2 separate regions of the Homo sapiens genome follow, and region 2 is linked to region 1. A link means that fine-mapping ties the variant in region 1 to the expression of a gene that starts in the linked region. Tissue or cell type: whole blood. Region 1 holds a variant in brackets; the other region holds the start of a gene. All regions are shown on one strand. Distances are from middle to middle.

What was found. PIP is the estimated chance that this variant, and not a neighbour inherited with it, causes the effect.
Region 2: CAPN10 starts here. The variant in region 1 is fine-mapped to the expression of CAPN10 in whole blood (TOPMed, PIP 0.96).

The regions. Positions count from the first base shown.
Region 1 is chr2:240,616,800-240,622,507 of GRCh38, reverse strand. It overlaps a transcript of GPR35 not described here. Among named protein-coding and RNA genes, the nearest start is that of GPR35, 5.8 kb to the left of the region's middle. RefSeq lists enhancers at 735-874, 895-954. The variant C/T (reference allele first, on the strand shown) is at 2,586.
Region 2 is chr2:240,582,952-240,589,631 of GRCh38, reverse strand. CAPN10 (calpain 10) reads right to left here and starts at 2,898. Exons shown (of 12, transcript NM_023083.4): 1 at 2,580-2,898; 2 at 158-289. The coding sequence starts at 2,720. It overlaps CAPN10-DT (CAPN10 divergent transcript), which reads left to right and starts at 3,316. Exons shown (of 1, transcript NR_103792.1): 1 at 3,316-6,680. RefSeq lists a silencer at 2,632-2,861 and enhancers at 2,061-2,887, 2,826-3,120, 3,172-3,351, 4,342-4,711, 5,082-5,151.

The DNA.
Region 1 (5,708 bases):
AGTGTATTTCATGTTTGGCCCAAGGCAATTCTTCTTATTCCAATGCGGCCCGGGGAAGCCAAAAGATTGGACAGCCCTGCTTTGAAGGGAAGTCTGTGAGGCGATGTCAGGGAAGCAGGAGCCTGGGAGAGCCAGAGAAAAGCCGTTTACGTTCAGCTCCACCTTGAGACCAATGAGGCACATACCTGCCAGCCACAGCCCATGGTCATACGATGTTTACAGCTAAAGCAGCAGCCAGTGACGCCTGCGTGGACACACTTCTATGACAGCAAAGTGTCCAAGTGCCCTGGTATCCAGAACAATATATGCTTTCCAGACAACTACCCTTGGCCGGACGCGGTGGCTCAGGCCTCTAATCCCAGCACTTTGGGAGGCCAAGGTGGGAGGTTGGCTTGAGCCCAGAAGTTTGAGACCAGCCTGGGCAACATAGCAAGACCCCATCTTTACAAAAAGTAAAAAAAAAAAAAATCAGCCACGCATGGGGGTGCATGCCTGTAATCCCAGCTACTCAGGAGGCTAAGGCGGGAGGAGCACCTGAGCCTGGGAGGCAGAGATTGCAATGAGCTGAGATCGTGCTACTGCACTCCAGCCTGGTTGCAACAGAGCAAGACCCCGTGACAGACAGTTTTCTTTAAATCAATAGAATAATACATGTTAGGCACAGTTTAGCTTAGTCTTTACACAGACGAGACCCCTGTATGAGAAAAAGTTAAAGCTGGGGTGTTCCCCCTCTTGCTTTCTGACGACACCCTGCTCTGTAATGGAGCAACTTTCAATAAACCCTCTCTTCTCACCACATTCTGACTTGCCTCCACTTCCTTCCTGAGTGAGACCCACGAAGCATGTCTTGAGGTCTGAATCGAGACTCCTTTTGCAGTGAAGCTGCCATCCTAAATGAGTCGCTTGGATCCTCATGCGTCCTTTGCATAGTTTTGGTTTACTAAAACAACACATTGGCTGGGTGCAGTGGCTCACATCTGTAATCCCAGCACTTTGAGAGGCCGAGGCAGGGGGATCACGAGGTCAGGAGTTCAAGACCAGCCTGGCCGACATGGTGAAACCCCATCTCTACTAAAAATACAAAAATTAGCTGGGCGTGGTGGCGCGTGCCTGTAGTCCCAGCTACTCGGGAAGCTGAGACAAGAGAATTGCTTGAACCCGGGAGGCGGAGGTTGTGGTGAGCCGAGATCACGCCACTGCACTCCAGCCTGGGCGATAGAGGGAGACTCCATCTCAAAAATAAATAAATAAATAAATAAGAAATAAAACAACACATTACGGTTTATCTTTATGACTGTTTTTCTGGTGTCCCTTCAAGCGCTGTGCCCCCGAGGCCAGTGCCTCACTTGCCCACCCAGCAGCTCAGGCAGACCAGTGGGGTCCTCTGTGTGGGGGCTCAGTTGTGGACCCCGAGAGAGGATGTGAGTACACCTCCCTCTTCTCGAGGTTTCCCTGTCACCCTCAGCACTTTCTGTTCCCCTCTTCACAGAACCAGGTCTGGAAGTGCACGTCCTGCTGGGAAACTCCCCTCCCCCACTGATCTTGCCTAAAGCCTGGCGGTGTCACTGTGAGGGGCTGGGGACCAGGACACAGGGTCTCTGTCCTAGATGCCCTGCTTTTGTGTGTATTTGATGTTTTCCATAATAAAAGTGTATAGAGAACTGAGTGTGTGGCCACAGAGGGGCAGGGGAGGGCAAAGCCTGTCAGCTGTGGGGCAGAGGAGGTAGCGGGCAGGGGTCCTGGGGGGTGGCTGCAGAAGACTAGCACCTGTGGCCTAAGGTCCCCTCCAGCCAAGACCCCGCCCTGTGCTCAGCCTCCTGTGATGGCCCCATCCCCACAGGGGGTCCCCACAGCCCAAGTGCAGGGCCCTTGGCAGGAGCTGGGCACCACCGCAGGACGAGCAGGGGACACGGGGTCCCAGGGGTCTGGAAGGGATCCTGAGGGGCCCTGAGAGGACCACGATGGGGGCAGGAGGGGTCCTGAGAGGGTCTGAGGGGCTGCAAGTCGCACCCAGGGCCCTTCCCTGCCTCCCCCGTGCCCACGCCTCCCTTCACCAGGCACCCTCACAGTGGAGCCTCCAGCTCTGCCCACCTGCAGCAGGAGGCCCCTGGGCACTCAGGGGCCGTCTCCACGCCTTGGAACTCCTGCCCCACCTTCACCCAGCCTATGGGGTGTCGAGGCATCTGGCCACCAGCAGGGAGATCCCAGCCCTGGCCACCAAAGGCCAGAAGAGGCTCCTTGGGCTGAGGGCAGGTGACCCCAGCCCCTGGGCCACCCCCGCCAGCTCACTCACCCTGATGGCTCCCACTGCCTGCTCCTGGGGACCCACTGCTGCCAGATGCCCCGCTGGGGTCCCCACCTGGCCTCGGGGTGGGCCTTGGGTGCTGCCCCAGCCAGGTTTCTGCTATTTCCAGCGGCTTTCCCTTTTCTTGGCCCTGGACAGCAGGGCCACCCTCTCGGACTCCTTCCCCTTCCTCTGCACAAGGCTCTGTGACTGGGAAGCTGCCTGCTCCTTGGCCCTTCAACTGCCAGCTCTCTGTCCCCATCCCTAGGGCCCTCCCTTCTCAGCAGAGAGAGCCATCGGG[C/T]CCCCGCTTGAGGCCCTCCCAACTCACTCGCCCTCCTGTCCAAGAGCCCCGCTCCTAAGATCCTCACTCCTAAGTGCCACTTCCTGGCTCGGGAACCTGCAGAGGCTCCCCACTGCCTGCCTGAGGCCGCCTGCCAGCCGCTGGAAGGTCCTCCACTCTGGGGAGACCTCCGGTTGGGGGAGTCTGGCGGGGAGGGAGGAGTAACTCTTGAGAGCGGAGTGTGTGTCGTGTGCTGTCATCCCCGCCCTAAACTGAACCATAAACACCCAGTGGCTGGACAAGGAAGGGGCAGTCCCTCCAGCAGGGATTTTCCCCACGTCCTCCCCGGGGCAGCAGGATCCCGGCCTGGCTGGCTTGCAGCAGCCTGTCTAGGATGGGCCCAGGAAATGGCAAGTTTAATCACGCCCAGGAGCCACTGAGGCAGAGGGTCCTTAACCCCAGAAGAAGCACTGTGTGGAGAGTTCTCACTCCCGTTCTTTTGCCCTATCCTGGGACCACCAGCCTTCAGAGACACTTCCTCCGGAGCCAGGCAAGACGCCTGCTGATAGAGATGGGAGTAGACGCTCACAGAGGAGATGTAAATTGCTCCTTAAAGATACGAAACGATGCTCAAAACGATCATAAAAAGAGAAACACAAATTAAGCTCAAAACGATCATAAAAAGAGAAACACAAATCAAAAGTTCACTGCAACACCATTTCTCCTCCATTAGTCAGGTCAAAATCCAAGAGTCTGACCACAATAGAAAGACGTCCTCGGATATCACCCATTGATCACTGATCTCTAAGGTGGCACAAACCCCCAGGCAGGTGGATTTGGCAATATCTTTAGCCAAATTAGAGATGCATTTACTCTTTGACCCAATAACCCCACTTCTAGGAATGTACTCACAGAGAGACGCAAGGACTATGAAGCATGTACTTCAGCAGCTCTTCACTGCCACGGTGTGGAGTGGGGACAGCCCGGGAACCACTCAGCATCTCTCCCAAGGGCCCAGGTTGAATGAAGCGTGTTCACACCACAGGACACTGAGCACTTGCAAAGAGGAGGGAGAAATATTTCTACACACTGTCATATGGTCATCTCCAGAATGTATTTGTAAATGAAAAAAAGCATGTTTATGTACATATAGACAATTGATGTGTTTTTAGATGGAGCCATCAGCTGTATGTTTTACAAATGGAAAGATAAGCTACAAAATTTGCTTTAAATTAAACTGTTACCTGTAGGAAACAGGTGGAAATGGGATGGGGATAGGGACGGACTTCTGTGACCATATCTTGGTTTCTAGATTTGGATTTAGACTCATGTCAAATGTTTGTGTAATTACTTAATTTAATTAAATTAACTTGTAAAAGGAATTCTTAAAATTGAAAGCAAAATGAAACTAACTGACTTGCATTATGGGTTGACAATATGAACCTACCAAACTCTTCCAAGTGATTTTAAAATCCAGTCATTTGGATGTATATCCATATAGCCTGACAACAAGAAAGAATGGCAAAAGAAGTTTTCATTATTTTAAGTAATCATTTTCCAAATAATTTTAAAACACTGTTTTGTCTGTACGTCGACACAACCCAAGGACTTTAAAAGTATCTAAAAATAATTTTAAACTATTTTCAGTGGTTATATACTGTTGATGGTAGTGTTGGTAAAGTCATTTTGAAAATATTGTGTGTGTTACAGGATAAAACAAATGAATAACTATGTTGGGTATTGTTTGAGATTTTTGGTGTGGGAGAAAGGAGATGCAGATATATTATCAATAAGATTAAGTAAAAACTATGTAAATCCGAATTTAAATAGAAAGTATCCATTTGTACTCATAATGTGTCTTTCAAAAAAAAAAGCCTTAGTTCTGTCCACTGACAAGGCCTAAAAATGACGACAAATCCAGTAACCACAAGCACACCTAACACCCAGACTGTGGTCTCTAAGTACCATTTCTCTTGAAGAGGAAGAGGGGCTCTTGGAGAGAAGTGTATGCTGTCCAATCTGGGTTAGGAAATGTCTAATGTAATTCTGGAATGTCTTCTTATGCCAGAGAACAAAGTAGCTGTCAAAGATTATTAGGGCAGTGCCAAAGGGGCTCAGGAGTTAAATCAAATAGGCTGGCACTGGACAAAGACAGGAAGATCTGAATATCAATAAGGATAATAATGTTAATGGGAACATCAAAAAATGTTTAAACTCATGAACTTGTAATTATACTTTAAAAACTCATTAGTCATTGTTGAAAGATGCCAGGAAAACAGTTCATTATTTTATAAATGAGGAAAGGAAGGGAAAGAATCAAGCATTTGCCCTGCCTTTCCTATGCAAACTGTACCTCAACATGACCAAAGAGTTAATGAAGGAACACTTCTTTTTATAGATACATTTCTGCTAATAAATAATGAAGGAAGACAGAAGTAGAATATCACTACTTTGCAAACCCTGATGGATGAATGAAACTAGCATTAGGGTTAATTATCTATTATTTTAGCTGTGCATTGTCAGCTACCTATTGCTACACAAAAAAATTACCTCTAAAATGAGAAGATTAAAACCACAGAGTTTTATCTCCCAGTTCCTGTGGGTCAGGAATTCGGGCTCTGCCAAACTGGGTCCTCTGCTCAGGGTCTTTCATGAGTCTGCAATCCAGGTGTCAGCCGGGGCTGCAGTCTCATCAGAAGGCTCAGCTACGAGGAGATTCACTTCCAGCTCCCCCAGGTGGCTGTTGGTAGAGTTTCAGGTCTTTCATGAGTCTGCAATCCAGGTGTCAGCCGGGGCTGCAGTCTCATCAGAAGGCTCAGCTACGAGGAGATTCACTTCCAGCTCCCCCAGGTGGCTGTTGGTAGAGTTTCAGGTCTTTCATGAGTCTGCAATCCAGGTGTCAGCTGGGGCTGCAGTCTCATCAGAAGGCTCAGCTAAGATGAGATTCACTTCCAGCTCCCCCAGGTGGCTGTTGGTAGAGTTTCATTCCCAATGGGCAGCTGGCCTGAGGACCCCAAATCTTCCCTGGTTCCTGCCCTCAGTTCCTTACTGGCCATGCCTCTTCACAGGGCAGCACACAGCATGGCATCTGGCTACCCCAGAGCCAGCGAGAGAGAGTATGCATCCAAGACAGATGCCATGGTC
Region 2 (6,680 bases), 33 kb after region 1:
CAGCCTCTGCCTTGGAACTCTCCTGCCTTCCCCCAACACAGCAGGAGATCCGGCTGCGGCACAGCTCTGCTTTCGCAAGGCCTCCTGGTACTCAGCAGGCTGGAGAAACGCAAAAAGAAACCGGCTCCAGGACAAACACAGGGAAGGGGCCCCGCACCTGGTCCAGGAGGTGCCTGCTCTTCTGCAGCGCGGCGCAGGCACACAGGAACCAGCAATCCCCCAGCAGCCCCTGCTTCACCTGCCCTTCCCGTGGGTCATCTGGAAACAGCCGGGGTGTGGCACAAATCTCCTGAGATACAGAAAGTTGTCCAGAGTTAGATCATGCCTGCTGTGGAACCCTTCAAACTAAGAACCCAAGGCTCTAGATGACAGGAGTTGGGGTGGAGCTTTTCCGATCATCAGTGTTACCCAAAAAGGGACAGGAAGGTGGTTTCCTGCAGCGGGTGTCCTTCAGCTCCTGGCTTCAAATGCCTCTGTCCAGCTTAATTCTGGGGTGCCTTCCTTCCTTACTGGAAAAATCCCAAACTCTAGCAAGCTCCTTCTCAAAACAGCTAAATGTTGGCTTCGAAAAGTTTCACTTTTTACTCATGCTGGTAAATCTCAAATGTGTCCTCCATCCTGCTGGAAATCTGTTTCTCTAGCAGGCTCCATTTCCCACACCCCCTAACTATCATATACCTTCCCCTTTCTCCCCGTCTACTCAAAACATCCACACTGCCCTTGCCCACCCCTCTGAGCTTCGACCTTGCCTCCTGCTTCTGGACCTGACCCTCTCTCCTGCCCTCAGAGCCTGGGCTCCTCTCACAACTCCTTCCCTTCCAGCTCCCCGGGCAGAATCCCACCCCCATGTTCTTTAAGACATTATCTCTCAGCACCATAGTCTCCTTCAGGCTTCTCTTCATTACAGCTCTTGAAAGAGCTGCCATGCCCACTACCTGCTTCCCATTCACTCTCCACACAGGCTCCTCTAGCTTCTGAGCCAATCATGGCCCCTAAACTGCCTCGATCAATGTCGCTGTCACCTCTATGTTATCAAACCCACTGGGCTTCTCTTGGTCCCAACTCTCTTCCCCAACTACTCAGCAGCATTCACAACAGCAGAACAGCCATCTGCTGCCCCTGAGGTGGTCCCCACTCAGCTTCTGTGAGGCCGCATGCTCCCCGGGTGTCCTCTCCCTCACTGCCTGCTGCTTCTCAAGTCTATCTGTCAGGGCACCTGCCTGACCCCAAGAAATGTTAGGGTTCCTCAAGGCTCAGCCCCAAGGCCCCCTTCTTCTTTACTGATACTCCCCCGAGACACTCTCCCAGGCTGTGGACTGTAAACCATCTAATATGCTCCGCCTCCCAGAAGAATGCCTCTAGCCTATCCCTGCTCCGTATCCACCTGCCTCCAGGACAGATCCACCTGCCTCCAGGACAGCTCCACCTGAAGACGTGAGAGCAAAGCCCAACTCTAGGTCACCCCCAGGCTCTGTCCCAGGACCACCATCCACCCACCTGTTCAGGCCAGAAACCCAGAAGGCATGTTGATCCCTCCACTATCCTCACCCTCTATTTCAATCAGTCACTATGGCCTCTCGATCCCCCCTGCAAGGTACGTCTCAAACCAATCTACTCCAAACCCACATCCTAACAGTCGTCAAGCTAATCTGAGCCCCTTCATCTTTCTCCAGGACCACTACAATGGACCCTTGCATTCTTGCCCCGACAACCCACTTCCCACCCAGCAGCAAGAGTGAGCTTGTAAAAACACACATCCAAGAGAACCACTCCTCTACCAAAACCCTCTAGTGGCCTCCAGCTGCACCTAAAATCAATCTTTTAACAAAATAAAACCCAAATTCCAATGACAAGGCTCTACATGGTCTGACCCTTGCCTCCTCCCAGGCCCTTCAGTGTTGTCCAAGGAAACCAGGTGGCCTGTCAAAGCCATCTCAGTCACGAGAGCCCAGAAGTTCCAGCTCTGTTCGAAGACTGGCGGCCATCAGTTGTCTCCGCTAAGACCGCATCCACTTAGGGCAAGGTTGCTCCCTGGGCAGTCTTATTCAGCAGATAAACCATTTCTAAAAATATGAACACAGCACTCGGCCAGGGCATCCCTTGGAGGTGCCATTTCTAGGTGTTACAACTGGAAAGGCAGGTGCACAAAATCCAAAACTGAAATTCTATCACGCTTTGCTTTGTGGGCTCGGCCTAGCCACTTCAGAGGGGCACGAGCGGCCCTCTCTGCGGGAGGAGCAGACACAAACGCTCTTCAGGGCGAAAGCAAACAGGTGGGGCGGGGTTTGGGGCTCTGTTAAAACGCCTCTCGCAGCGCTCTGAGCCTCCTGGATTGGAGCTCTCGCAGGCGGAGGCCACGACCTAGTTTAGCGTCCTTAGGGTAGCGCCGAGTCCTGCTCGTTCTGGGCGGGGGTATGAAGGAGGTACGAAAAGAGGGGGCCGGGCGCCCACTTCTGAGGAGAACAACGGCGGACCCTGCGTTCGGAGCTACCCTGGCCGCCCACCCCGCCCCGCTCCCTGCGAGGAGCGGAGATCTCAGAAACCAGAAACGGCGCCCACCGCACCCCACACGGCCCCACCTGGGGCCGCCTCCACGTGATGTCCTCGCGGAACTGGGCCAGCGGCGTAGACAAGTCGCAGAAGAGCGAGGAGTCCGCGGCGGGGAAGGCGGCGTCCCGGAACAGCTCCCTCGCCGGCGTCGCGCCCCGGCCCGCCCGCATCCTCGGCTCCGCGGGCTCCCATCTGCAGCCGGTTGCCTCGGGGTCGCAGCCCCGGAGAGAAGGCGAGTCAGCCGCCGCCGCCTCCGGCCCGCCCCGCCCGTTCCCCGCCCGGCCCAGCCCTCCAAGCCCGAGGGCCCCGCAGGTGCTGGACCAGGCCAGTACGCCGGCCCGCTAGTCTCCCATTGGTAACCAGGCGGCAGCCAACCGGGCGTGGGGTCTCGGGTCACGTGACAGGCGGCCCAATCGCACTCGCGCGACGGAAAGCGCCACGGACGTCGGAGGCCCAGGGGGCGGGGCTCCCGAGCTCCGCTCTTTCGTGGTCGGGCGGCGGACCGCACTGTATTTTTTCCTTCCGGGGGCGGCGGAGCCCAGGGCTATCCCGGCCTCCGCTCATACCCGGAGGGCCGGCAGGCGTTCAGTCCTCCAGCCGGTGAGGCTCGGGCCGGGGTGTCGGGACCGCCTGAACACGCGGGCTCTGGGAGCTTCAGGGACCAGGGAGCCACCTCGGCCGAGTTGCGTCGCAGACTACAGCTCCCAGCATGCGCCGCCGCTCCCAGCATGCACCTTCCTCCCGAAACGCGTCTCTGCTTCCGGCGCTCTGCTGCGGAGGCCGTGGCCGCGGGTAGTTGGGAGGAACCGAGATTTACGCTTGGTAAGGCAAGTTGCGAGCTGTCCGGCGCCGGTCGAGTTCCTGCCGCCGTCGTCGTCAGGCAGGGGAGAAGGGGGCCTCAACCCCTCTAGTGACAGCTGTTTGCTACCTAATAGGGCTTTTCATCCCACCGGGCCCCAGGGCCTTCGTTAGGAGCCCAGCAGGCTCAACTTCTTGCTGTGGTTCTGGAAAAGGGAGTGACCACCTGGCTCAACACCTCTCTCTGTGATGTGTTTGGGAGTTTTGGGAAATGAGACGGCTCCGAGGGAAGAGCTTGAGGGAGCGGCGTCGCACTCGTTCGACCTTCCCGGGCCTGGGCTTTGTTTCTAGGCATTTTAGGTTGAACGCTCTACATCTTAACTGGGGGCAGGGGAGGTGGCCAGAGCATCCCGCTGAGCGTTTTCCGATTCCCCAGATGGCCAGGCACCTGGTCCTGGTGGCTGGACAGTGACCCCGTGGACGCACATTTACAGCTATAGCCATTCAGTGCCGCGGGGAGGTGAGGATAGTGATCCTGGGACCTGCTCGAGGATTCACCCTTGCCCCAAGAACCTGTTCCATTCCCAGGAATGAAGGCGGTCAGGCAGGGGAGGAGAAGGGGGCCTCAACTCTTCTAGTGACAGCAGTTTGCCACCTAATAGAGCTTTTCAGATTTTGCCTCCTCAGGCCATTTTACTCAGCCTCGGACTATCAAGGATGGTCACATTGAAGCTGTTTTTCTGCAGTCAGGAGCGAAAAGTCCCGGCTGTTGAAGGAGAAACTGAATCTGGTTCAGGAGTCCCAGGTTCCTCCCTCTGAGAGGCCAGGTGGGGCCTGCGTGAGTAGCAGTTGTTCAGGTGGCAGGACACTGCTGTTTTCATCCCACCTGGCCCCAGGCCCCTGATTAGGGGCCCAGAGTGCTTATGTACTTGCCTCGGTCTGAGAAAGGGAGTGACTGCATAGCCCAACACCTGTGGGATGCCTCACTGCCCAGATGTTTCATCTCCGGGATGCTTCATTGCCCATTCAGCACCCTCTATGGTGCTGACTCTTCCGGAAGATGTTTCTGATTCCTTGCTAGGCTGGTGGTTGCACCATAGCTGAGAGGACTCAAGAAGAGCCTGGTCTCAGCTTCACCTAGGAGTCCCGGAGGAGTAAGAAACACGTATCTTTCCTGTTCTGGGCACATATGGGTGGGTAGCAGAGCTGAGGCTAGCTGAGGATCCCGACTCTCCTTTGGGAGCCTTTGTTGTGCCGCTCTCCCAGGCTGATCAGATCTGGAGAGCTAACAGCTTCCTGTGGCCACATCTGTGTCCAAGGCTGGGCCCATGCCTGTAGCCAGATTGCCAGGATCTGGAAGGGGCCAAGAGACAGCTGGTGCTGGGTAGGCAGCAGCCCTGTGTCAACCTGCCCCCACTATTACCCCATGCTGTGATTTGCATGTGGTCTGCCCCTGCCCAAAATGGTATTGAAATTTGAGCCTCAATGAGGCAGTGTTAGGAGGTGGTGCCTAGTAGGAGGAGTTTGGGTAATAGGGGTGGATCCCTCATGGATAGGTTAGTGTCCTTTGTGGAGGGGTGAGTTCCCATGAGAGCTGGTTAGAGAGTCAGCCTTCCTGCGGTTGTCTCTTGCTTCCTCTCTCGCCATATGGCCACGTAATCTCTTTGTGCATGCCTCTCCCCTTCTACTTGCTGCCTTGAGTTGAAGTAGCATGAGGCCCTCACCAGGTGCAGCTGCCCAATCTTGAAATTTCCACCAGAATTTTGAGCCAAATAAACCTGTTTTGCTTTTTTAAAAAAATAAATTCCCCCACCTTGGCTGGGCGCAGTGGCTCACGCCTGTAATCCCAGCACTTTGGGAGGCCGAGGCGGGCGGATCACGAGGTCAGATCGAGACCATCTTGGCTAACACGGTGAAACCCCATCTCTACTGAAAAAAAAAAAGAAACAAAAAAATTAGCCAGGTGTGGTGGCGGGCACCTGTAGTCCCAGCCCCTCACTCGGGAGGCTGATTGAGGCAGGAGAATGGTGTGAACCCGGGAGGCGGAGCTTGCAGTGAGCCCAGATCGCACCACTGCACTCCAGCCTGGGCGACAGAGCGAGACTCCGTCTCTAAATAAATAAATAAATAAATAAAACAAACCCAACCTCAGGTATAGCAGTGTGAAACAGACTAAGACATTCCACATGCCCTGTGGTCCCATCTGCTACCCCAGGGTGCAAAGATGTTCCCTCAGCCCTGAAGAATGACATTCCCCCCGGCTCCTGGGATATCTGGAGGGGTTGTAAGCAGCTTGGGTTGGTGAGATAAGGAGTTTGGGGGGCAGCTGATTCATGACCCTGGCCTCCTCAACTGCAGGCTCTTGGTCTGAAGTACTGTAATTAAAGTATGAGAGCCTCGGGGCCCTCACTTCAAGGAGGGAAGAGCATCCCCATGCCTCAGCGTTTGGGGATTGTAGGGAGATGAGAGTCCTTCAGGTGGGACTAGTTCCCGCCATGACCCCACTGCTGGCCAGTGGCCTGAAACGCATCTGACCACTTCTCAGGTTCATGGGTGTTGAGGAGGAGCCCTGTGGAATCAACCCTGTCTGCCTCCTCTTATCCTGCCACTCCTCTTGCTCTGTCTGGATGACTGCCCTTGTTTTTCAAGGGAATGTTCCCTGTCTTCCTCAGCCAGGATTTTTTCTGAACTTGACATCTCCGTTTGTTCAGGGGGCAATCATTGGGCACTTCACTGTGCTGGTCCTTGCATTCTCATGGAGATGCAGAGATTAAAAATTAGTATCTTGTCCACATACTGCCCAGAGTTAGCAAGGATTGCTTTTCTGTGGATTTGTCTCAGGTCGGGCACAGTGGGGGTAGGGTCCTTCTCGAACCTTTTCCTAGCCTAAAGGTTCCAGCTGAATCTTCCCAGGCAGGGCTGAAACAGGAACCATTTTAGGCTTTGCTGCAACCCATGGTCAGTTCTCCAAGAAAAGTGAAGAGGGTTCCACCTGGGGCAGCCCTCAAGGGCTCAGAGGGCCAAAACACACGTACAACATGTTGAGACACTGAGTTTGTGCGATCCCCACACATCTCAGCAGTGAGTATTTCTGCCTCATTTTACCGATGAGGAACCTGAGCTTCAAAGGGAAGAGGTGACAGCTCAGGACCACACAGCTGTAGGTAGGAGGCAGGAAAATAGGGTCTGAGTGCAGGGAACATAGGCTGATTCACACTTCAGTTATGATAGGAAATACCTTCTCCATAGGACATAGGCCAAGCAAATGACTTTGTAACTTCATCCTCTCCATCTGCATAACGTGTGCCCCAAGTAACCAATGGAATCACCTA